Regions from separate parts of the Homo sapiens genome. Here region 2 is linked to region 1. Evidence: fine-mapped expression QTL. Tissue or cell type: whole blood. Region 1 holds a variant in brackets; the other region holds the start of a gene. All regions are shown on one strand. Distances are between the middles of the regions.

Region 1 (5,156 bases):
ATCTAATGGGAAATTCTAAATAGGGTGCTTCCAGAGTTGCTTAATTCAAGACTCATCATCAAGCACTCAAGTTCTTTCTTCTCTTTCCTCTTTGCCATCTTCAGATTGTTGGTGTTTGTGTTCATGCTTCCCTTCTCATGGTTTCAAGGAAAGATTATATTAAATGGTGGGGCCATAGCAGCAACAATCATCACATCTTTTTTTTTTTTTTTGAGATGGAGTCTTGCTCTGTCGCCCAGGCTGGAGTACAGTGGCGCGACCTCAGCTCACTGTCACCTCCGCCTCTGGGGTTCAAGCAATTCTCCTGCCTCAGCCTCTCAAGTAGTTGGGATTACAGGCACCCACCACCACTCCTGGCTAATTTTTGTATTTTTAGTAGAGACGGGGTTTCGCCATGTTGGCCAGGCTGGTCTTGAACTCCTGACCTCGTGATCCACCCGCCTTGGCCTCCCAAAGTGCTGGGATTATAGGCATGAGCCACCGCACCCAGCCCAATCATCGTATCTTTACACCTTGATTTTTCTTTTTTAGTTACCTAGGCTGGTCTCGGACTCGTGGGCTCAAACTATACTCCTGCCTCAGCCTCTTGAGTAGCTTGGATTACAGGCATGAGCCACCACACCTATAGCCACAATGTCCTCTATCCAAGTGAAGAAACCTTTACAAGGAGTCTCCTCCATCCCCAGCAGATTTATTCTCATGTCAGAGCATCTAGAGCAAGGTCACAGAGCTACCCTTAAACCACCCAATGGCAGGGGGTATGGGACCATCATGACTAATTACAACCAATCAGGATTAACCTGATTCTCAAGTTGGGGAGGAGAATTGACCATCAGAATAAAAACAGGGCTCTGTAAACACGGAAGAAGAGGAAAATGACTCTTGGGTGCCTCTGTGAATGTTCCTTCTCACATCCAAGGAGATGTGCAAAGACAGAAACAATTTTTTTTTTTTTTGAAATGGAGTCATGCTCCGTCGCCCAGAGCTGGAGTGCAGTGGCATGGTCTTGGCTCACTGCAACCTCCCCGTCCTGGGTTCAAGCTATTCTCCTGCCTCAGCCTCCCAAGTAGCTGGGATTACAGGTGAGCGCCACCATGCCCAGCTAGTTTTTGTATTTTTAGTAGAGACGGGGTTTCACCATGTTGGCCAGGCTGGTCTCAAACTCCTGCCCTTGTGATCTGCCCGGCTTGGCCTCCCAAAGTGCTGGGATTACAGGTGTGAGCCACTGTGCCCAGCCGAGAGAAACATTTAGAACAAAACACAGACTTGTGTTTTTTCCCCCCAGAACAATCTCTTGAGGCATGCGAAGGCTGTTCTGCAAGCATGTGTCATTGTCTAACATTTTGTGATGGGTGGTCACATCTGTGTATGGATACAGTGTTGTCATGGGGCCAATATCTCTATCCAAAGTTACATCTGTTTTCAGATGGGCTGTGAAAATAGTCCATCGATTTTGACTTAGAAAAGTTCTATTAATGTGTGGTATCACAAAGACAGACACAACATTTGTAGTGAAGAGCTGCCCAGTAGTCAGTGCACTTCTCATAATCATACCCCAATGTCCTCTTAGGGAATCACCTCTCACAGGTTGAACAATGTCTTGGTGGGACTATTAATCAAGGGTTCTTGCCCACCAGCCAATGAGTGGCATGTGACTTGAGCTAGACTAATTTGACCCTCTATCTTAGGACTTTGAGTTTTGGATTCAGTGAGGTAAGGGTGGAAAAAATGAAGCTCATTCACTTCAGTAACATAGTTCAGTTATTCCTGCCTCTAAACCCCAAACACATCCCCTATCCTCACCAAACTGCCTTGGTTCTAGTACTAGTCTGTTCTCATGCTGCTAATGAAGACATACCCGAGACTGGGCAATTTATAAAGGAAAGAGGTTTAATGGACTCACAGTTTTCCGTGGCTGGGGGGGGCCTAACAATCATGGCAGAAAGTGAAGGAGGAGCAAAGTCACGTCTTACATGGCGGCAGGCAAGAAAGTGTGTGCAGGGGAAATCCCCTTACTAAAACTATCAGATTCGTGAGACTTATTCACTATCACAAGAACAGCATGGAAAAGACCTGCTCCCATGATTCAATTATCTCCCACTGGGTCCCTCCCATGACATGTAGGAATTATGGGAGCTACAATTCAAGATGAGAGTTGAGTGGGTACACAGCCAAACCACATCAGTTCTGAACCTGGTTCTCCAGGCTTCCCTTTGATTCTGTGGGCTACCAGTGATATTCTTGCAAAAATATCCTTTTCCCGCGTACGTTTCCAGAGTTAGTTTCTGTTGCCTGCTGGATACATTTAACATCTATTTTATTTTATAAAGTCATAGGATGTCAGAGCTGTAAGAAATCTTATAGATCTAGTTCATCTCCCTCATTTTACAGCTGAGGAAGCTGATGCCCCCAGCGGTTGAGGGTTTCACCCAAGATCACATCACAGAGGTTGTCAATGATGGAACTTGGAAAGAAGACAAGGTCTCCTTTCCCTAGGGTAGTGCAGGCTGCTTTTTTCCCCTAAGTCTCTTTTTAGTGTAAAGCACAACTTCTCTTCTTTTTCTCTCTGTGTGTGTTTATCTGCAATATTTAATAGGAGATAGTGACTTTAAAATCCTCATTTCCCCCCCAGACTGACAGTTTGCTTTGTATAGTTTAAAGGCTTGTTTCAGAGATAGACCTCTCAGGGACTTGGTATCTGGCAAAGACAGGCATTAGTTTATGTCCCTATATGGAGCCTTGCTTCTTTCCAGCTATCTGTAAATGTTTATTCTCTTACATGAAATTCATGTTTGGAAAG[A/G]AAGTGGTTTGCTCTAGGGAAACATATGGGCTAGAGTTCTGAAAGTGATTATCTACCATTTCTAAGTCTGCCCCTTGTAAGCTGTGTATATTGGGAAAGGATCTCCCTTCACTCACACTAAAGGATATATAGCTGCTCTACATTTTCAGCTGCTTTAGGGTAGCCATAGCTCATGCAACCACTGTAAAAAATAGCCCAAGGTTGGGATAGGAGTTTGGAAGGGAATTTAGAACAGTATTGACTATGTGCCAGGTACCATATGAAGCACCTAGCATGTATTAATTAATGAATTAATATTCTCCTCACAAGGTTAGGAGGTAAGTACCATTATTATTACCCCTTTTTATAAGTGAAGAATTAAGTCAAAGAGAGGTTAAGAAACTTGTTCAAGGTCACACAGCTTTTAAGTGGCAGGATTGAAATTCAAACCCAGGCAGTCTAGTTTTAAAGTCTGTGCTCTTAACCCACTGCTCTGTTGCATCTTAATCGCTGAATCATGGAGGTAAAAGTGAATCATTTCTGTTGAACTCCCAACCTCAAGTGATTCTCCTGCCTCAGCCTCCCAAAGTGCTGAGATAATAAGTGTGAGCTACCTTGCTTGGCTATGATCTTTTTCTTAGGAAAAAAAGATTGTTCAATACAGACAAATACCTTTTCATAAACACTTCTAGTAGAGAGTTCTGTATTGCGAATCTCTTGATCTCAACAATGCTTGGAAGGTCTACTTATAAACCGTACTCTACCACAAGTTCGCTACACAACAAACATGCTCTCATCTGTACCCATGTAACAAAGTACCTCAAAGAACTCAATTATTTGGTAGTTGTGAGAAGAATTGCACAGAATTAAGCTTTTTGCTTTGGATGCTCATAAAATAGGATCAATAAGCAATGTGTTAATTGATTTTTTAAGAGAAATTCTTTTAAGCCATGTCGAGATCCTCTGTGGTTAAAAAAAAAAAAAAAATTAGTTACAATACAAAAACACCCAAGCAATGATAAGAAAAAGTCATGGACTGAGTCTCTGGAAAGTCCCCTTTCCCCTTGCTGGGTTCAAAACACGTTTTTCTACTTGAAATTTCTTGTCTACAGAGAGAAAGGAAATCATCTCTGTTCCATTTTTATTTTGGCAAACAATGTAGGGCTTCTTTTTAAGCAATTTAGCATTACAAAGTTCCAGTATGTCAAACAAAACAACAGTGCTTAACGATTACATCACAGTGAGATATTTTTCTTGTGTTAGTCTTTATTCAGTGTAGACAATTCAGTAGGAAAAAAAGGATACTTAAAAAATTGTCAGCCGGGCACAGTGGCTCATGCCTGTAATCCCAGCACTTTGAGAGGCTGAGGCGGGTGATCACCTGAGGTCAGGAGTTTGAGACCAGCCTGGCCGACATGGCGAAACCCCATCTCTATTAAAAATACAAAAATCAGCCAAGCGTGGTAGCAGGCGCCTGTAATCCTAGCTACTCAGGAGTCTGAGGCAGGAGGATCATTTGAACCCAGGAAGCGGAGGTTGCAGTGAGCCGAGATTGTGCCACTGTACTCCAGCCTGGGTGACAGAGCAAGACTCCATCTCAAAACAAAACAAAGCAAAACAAAACAAAAATTGTCTACTTTATTTCTACTAACTTTATTCTGACAATTAGACTCATGCTAGAAGAAAAGTTCTCCAGATTTAGTAATTGTTGCTTCTTTACAGAAGAATTAGATCAACGTACGCAAAAAAGACCTCTTTCAATGACATGTTTTAGTGCCGGCAGTTTCATCAGAGACAGAAATCACACAGGATGTCTTCTAGAGACTCTGCTGGTTGGGATGGGATGGATGGGGAAGCAGGCGCAGTAGGGAGGTGTGTTAACCTATTCTCGTATTACTATAAAGATATATCTGAGACTGGGTAATTTATAAAGAAAAGAGGTTTAATTAGCTCATGGTTCTGCAGGCTGTATGGGAAGTACAGTGGCTTCTGCTTCTGGGGAGGCCTCAGGAAACTTACAATCACGACAGAAGGTGAAGGGGAAGTGGGTGTCTTACACGGCAAAAGCAGGAGCAAGAGATGGGGGGCGGTTAAACAACCAGATCTCGGGAGAACTCACTCGCTATCATGAGAACAACACCAAGAGGATGATGCAAAACCATTCATGAGAACTCTGCCCCATGATCCAATCACCTCCCAGCAGGCCTCACCTCCAACACTGGGGATTACAATTCAACATGAGATTTGGGTAGGGACACGGGTACAAACCATATCAGGAGGTGACAGAAGAGAAGATTAGATATTTGAAAAAAAGCTCGGAGTCGTAAGGAAAATGAGTACTTAGACAAAAGGATTTCTTAACAAAGCAAATTTCCTT
Region 2 (5,156 bases), 100 kb before region 1:
TCTATTTAATCTAGAAAAAAATAGAGAAAAAGAATATACACACAAAGGACTTTTCTAAAATCTTGAATGTTTTTTTCTTATTTGCAATAAGAAGATTGAAATTTCAAACCATCCAAAATATTAAATTCCTTTGACATATTTCCCCTCATATCTAAAAATCAAAAACATTTTCTCACAGTACATTTTATTTTTGAAATTTTATTTTTGGAATAGTTTGGTCACTGAAGATGTAAACTGTCCACACCCGTCTTACTTTGATGAGTCTTCTTGAGTAGCATTTTTTAAACAACTTCATTTATTTTAGATTTTTAAAAATGCCATTTTATTTTTATATCTCCTATAAATGAAAAACGTCAATTTAAAATTCTTGAAGAATGCACATAGCAATCTCTCAGTCAAAAAAGGATAATCTTTTTATTTCATAATGAATAGCCCACCAAGATATTTCTGTATGCATACTAAAGAATAGCTTAATTTTATTTCAGTAATCATTAGCCATGCAAACTACCTTTGTTGTAAGGAATTATAGCAACCAATGTGTGTATAATTTTTCCAAGATTACACATGTATAAAAATTTTATATTCACATTATAATTTCTCCAGTAGTAGATAACATGTTAAGAGTTTTATATGTGAATTTACTTATGTTGGTAAATGAATGTTTTATTTTTTCTAATTTTGTTAAAATATTCTTGATATATTGATTTTCAAATGAAACATTTACTCTTTGGTTCTCCACAAAAATGATGAATCTTTTACTATATAAATTGTTCTCTTTATGGCAACAAGTCTCCAAAGAAAATACAAACAATGAACCACATTAGCTCAATTGATCTCCAAATTAAATTAGTGGCTTCTATTCCCTTAAGATAATGCCAAGTCATGAACTAATTAAAAAAAATTTAAATTAAATACACTATTTACCTACATACAGATATTCCCCTCTCTCCATTACACAGAAGATGACAGATGACTAGAGTAAACATTTTTTATCCTTCCAAGTCCACATTCTTAAGGTTAGAAGAGGAAAAGGTGGTAAATATCCTCAAGTAAGAGACACTTAAATATATAAATTCATTTTGTCTCAATCCATATGACACCTACATCATTAATAACCAACTTACAAATTACAAGTGTTATCAAAAGCTGCACAGAAATTTTAAGAGAAAAATATAATAATCAAATTAGACAAATGATAAGCTATTTGTGCCTTTAAATATTTAGAAATATTTTCGAATGAAGATTAATCAGAAAGATGACTTTCATGCTCTAAGTTGTTATATAATCTTATTGTAGTTTAAACTGATGAATAAGAAAATCCATTTCAAAGATAAAGGCAGATTCCAAGATAAAGGTAGATAAAGTCACTATGAAATTACCTATTTTTTTCCTTATTTTCTTTCTTCTAACTGATTTCCCCTTCTTCCTGTCCCCTTTTCACCAGATAATCACATCTAGCCCCTCTACATTCCCTTAAACTCTCCTGGAGGAATGTCCTTCATTTCCCTAAATAGCACACATTTCAGTGAAAGTGAAGGTAACAGGAATTAGTAGCTGTCATCTTAGAGACATGTTACTTAGTATTCTCTATATTAGTCTGGAGAGCTGTAACACAGACAGGACAAAGAGAAATAACCATAAGAAAAATATTATTGACAACTACAATTGTGTCAAAAAATTGGTGACTATAATGTGCATCTCTTTGCAAAACCTTTCCTTTTCATTAAATTAAAAAATGACTCTATCATCTGTTATAAACTAAAATGTCACATAAAATTTCATACTATAGAAATATCTTCTATAGTTTTGATATGAATATAGAAGGTTAATGAATGAAGCAAACCACAGGCAATGATACATGAAATTGCTACTATATATTATTTTCAAAGCTGAGCCAGATCTATATATAGAACACAAGATATTTCAAAATGAATGCTATTTGTTGTCTTTGTAATTTTACAGACTATTAGAACATTAAAAAAACCCTAGCAGAAGTATCACATGTTCATACCAAGATATTATATATATGTATGCAGATGTACATATATAATCAGATTTTAAATAATAAATACTAAATTATTTAAAAACATTATAGAGCCATACCCCCACACCCCTTTTCTAACAGTAAGAAAATAATCAACCTGCATGAACTGGAATCAGATTCATTTTCTTCTTCACTAGTGCCATCATCCACTTCTGGTCTATCCAGCCAATGTGCACCGCCACAATCTTCTGCTGTAAACTCAAATGCAGGGACTTCAGAGGTGGATGCCATTGGCCAAGAAGGTGAATTCTGAAAATCCAGTTGGCTGGACCTTCGGTAACCAATTGAAGCCAAAGGCAATTGTAGGCTACATGGATCTAAAAACTTTCTCCCACCGTTTGCTCCAGTCTGTCCTCGGTTCCAAAATTCTCCCTGCTGGCTGTCAACTGTAGAATTAGGAGATGATGCTTGATGACCAAACCACCTCCATCTGATTTTCAAAATCTGTTTCACATCAAACTCTTTACGAGAACCAGACATCCTCAGAGAAACCAAGTGATCGTCTAGGCAACGGGCAAAAAGCACTGCACACAGATTTGTGCATCCAACCAAGACAAGAGAAGTATATGCCCTGCTGTACACAACAAAAATATGTAAAGGAAAATAAATCACATTCATATATATATCTACAATTACTTTTATGCCAATATATCAGATTTTAAAGAACAAAGGATAATGAATAAAGATGAAACACGGTGGAACATTCCGTTCAATCAGAGCAAACTCTCATCCACCTATCCTGAAGCAGCTAGACCACTTTCCCGGCTCTCCTTTCCCATACTGACCATTAGGTCTCACAAACACTGACAGCATTCATTAAAGTCCTTTCAAATGCAGAACACCACCCCCTTTTTCTTAAACCACAAATGACAGAGACAGAAAACACTATCCCCGTTGCAGTATCTCAGTCTCTGCTGCTTAGTATATTAACTCTTTCATTGCTGAAACAATAAATGTATTCTATAGCATTTCCCTTTGTACTTAAAAATAATCACTTTAAAACTAAAATGTTTCTATTTCTAAACTAAGTCCCTAAGTGAAATACCACAAAACAAGTTTTTAAAAAAGCATTTGTAAAATTAGATGAGTTATGGTGATTTTCCAGGTGTGCTCTTTGGATGGGGAATGAGGAGGAAAGCGGAGTACAAAGGTGGGGCTCCAGACTATTGCCTTCACCTCTATCTTCTCCCTTCAGAAAACAAATGGATCTAATTAATACAGTAAGATCCTGGGTAAGATTTCACTTGGATAAAGAATAATGAGGAGAATAAAAAGTTTGAAAACTACAAAGGATCAAAATGTAACAAATACTCTTTTTCAAATAAACTGAGGCCAGGATTTCTCTATAAGTAGAAATGGGCCACTGCCAGTTAGTGTAACATCCAAATTTCTATGACATTACTTAGGAAAAGGAAAAGTGCGGCTCAAAAAAGCTACCAGGGACTGGGATAGGACTATTGGGTGTACAAGTGCCCTAATGGTGCCCTCTGTTGTTAGCAAAACAAACAATGGTTTGAACATGGTTACAGTTAAGGCAAATTGATAAAGCAAATACAAATAAACTCAAAAATACTGAGTAGTTATTGTGAACAATGCAATCTACTAGGCATTGTCAGGGACACAGAGATATATATATCTTGGTTCCTAACCCCCAAAATAATTAAATCTAGCTATTGAACCAAATACAAAATATTTGATAAGGTAAAATAAGAAACATTAAAATGCTGCAATATTAAAGTGTGATCTATCAATGCAGAATTTGAGTTTTCAGGGTGCTCAGTATTTACTCCTTTATCAACTAATTCCATACAAAAGGCAATGCCTATCTAAGCTGACCAAAAAACAAAAACAAAAACTACTTTGGAGGCTTACAAAAATATTGTGAGGTGTCTATCTTAATACAAATTATTCAGAGAAACAAGAATGAGAAGCATAAAAAGCCAAGTATGATTTCATGCTAAATAATACGGGAAAAACCATACAAACTGTAAGAAAGAAAGGAGATATCAGGATGGCAATGGAGTGGTATGGGCCAGTTTCATTAGGGAGAAGGCTGCTAAGAATAGTAAAACATTGTTTAGGTAGAATGATAGATTTCTACAGAAAAAGATTCTAATAAAAGCATGAAGTGGGCATATCTACAAGGAAGAAGTGGGAAATAATCAGTTTGATCAGCCAGCCATACCAAATTAATTTTAAGGTGTAGTAAGAGATAAAGTTAGATGAATACGATGAGATAAAATGCCTTGAGCAAGCAGCAAAGACATTATTGAATGGACTGTTGAACAGGACAATGTTTTAGGAAATTAACTTGGCAGTACTGTGCAGGACGCATTAGAGAGTGAAATGACACTTTCCCCTCTCCTCTCACCTTTGTCAGACTCCTTCTGATCAACATCCTTCTAACTTCACTCTAGCTATCCAACTTTATTTCTAACCATTTTCCAACATAGACACACCACTTCATTGGTCAAGGCAGTCTACATTATGGTGTTCCCTCTTTTATAACACTGTTTGCCTCCCAGAGAAACTCTGGTTTAAAAAACACACTTCATCCTTCAAGATTTAGCTCAGGCACTATCATCTTTGTAAACACTTCAGTTACTCTAAGTAGCTGGTTCTCAACAAGGGAAGCATCAACCTGCTCCTAAAGGCTTCTGGAAAATAGGTGGTGGTGGTGGTGGTGGTGGTAGATTTTTAGTTGTTGGAATGACCAGAGTGCTATAGGCATTGAGTGTGCAGGGGCCAGAGACAGCAAACATCTGGCAATGAAAAATGATACCTTTATTTTGCCAATCCTCCTCCACTCATTCCCATGGTAATCATTGCTGACGCCAAGCTTGGTACATATAGCCTTTCACACCTCTCTCCATGTTTATAAATCATGGACAAACTTATATACACATATATAAGAGATTTGCTATTGTTATACAAGAGATCATATTGTATTCATCTTTTAGCATTTTGCTCTTCTCACCTAATTTTATATATACATGGAAATATAAATTAATAATCTTTTTAAGAGTTACATGATATTTCATTACTGTAAAAAAACCAATTTATTAAACTATCTCCCTGCTAATGGGCATTCAGGTTGATTTCAGGTTTTTGG

The links. PIP is the estimated chance that this variant, and not a neighbour inherited with it, causes the effect.
Region 2: KLHL5 starts here. The variant in region 1 is fine-mapped to the expression of KLHL5 in whole blood (TOPMed, PIP above 0.99).

What each region holds. Positions count from the first base shown.
Region 1 is chr4:38,956,287-38,961,442 of GRCh38, reverse strand. No RefSeq gene overlaps it. Among named protein-coding and RNA genes, the nearest start is that of TMEM156, 74 kb to the left of the region's middle. The variant A/G (reference allele first, on the strand shown) is at 2,801.
Region 2 is chr4:39,060,021-39,065,176 of GRCh38, reverse strand. KLHL5 (kelch like family member 5) reads right to left here and starts at 2,945. Exons shown (of 11, transcript NM_015990.5): 1 at 2,142-2,945. The coding sequence starts at 2,524.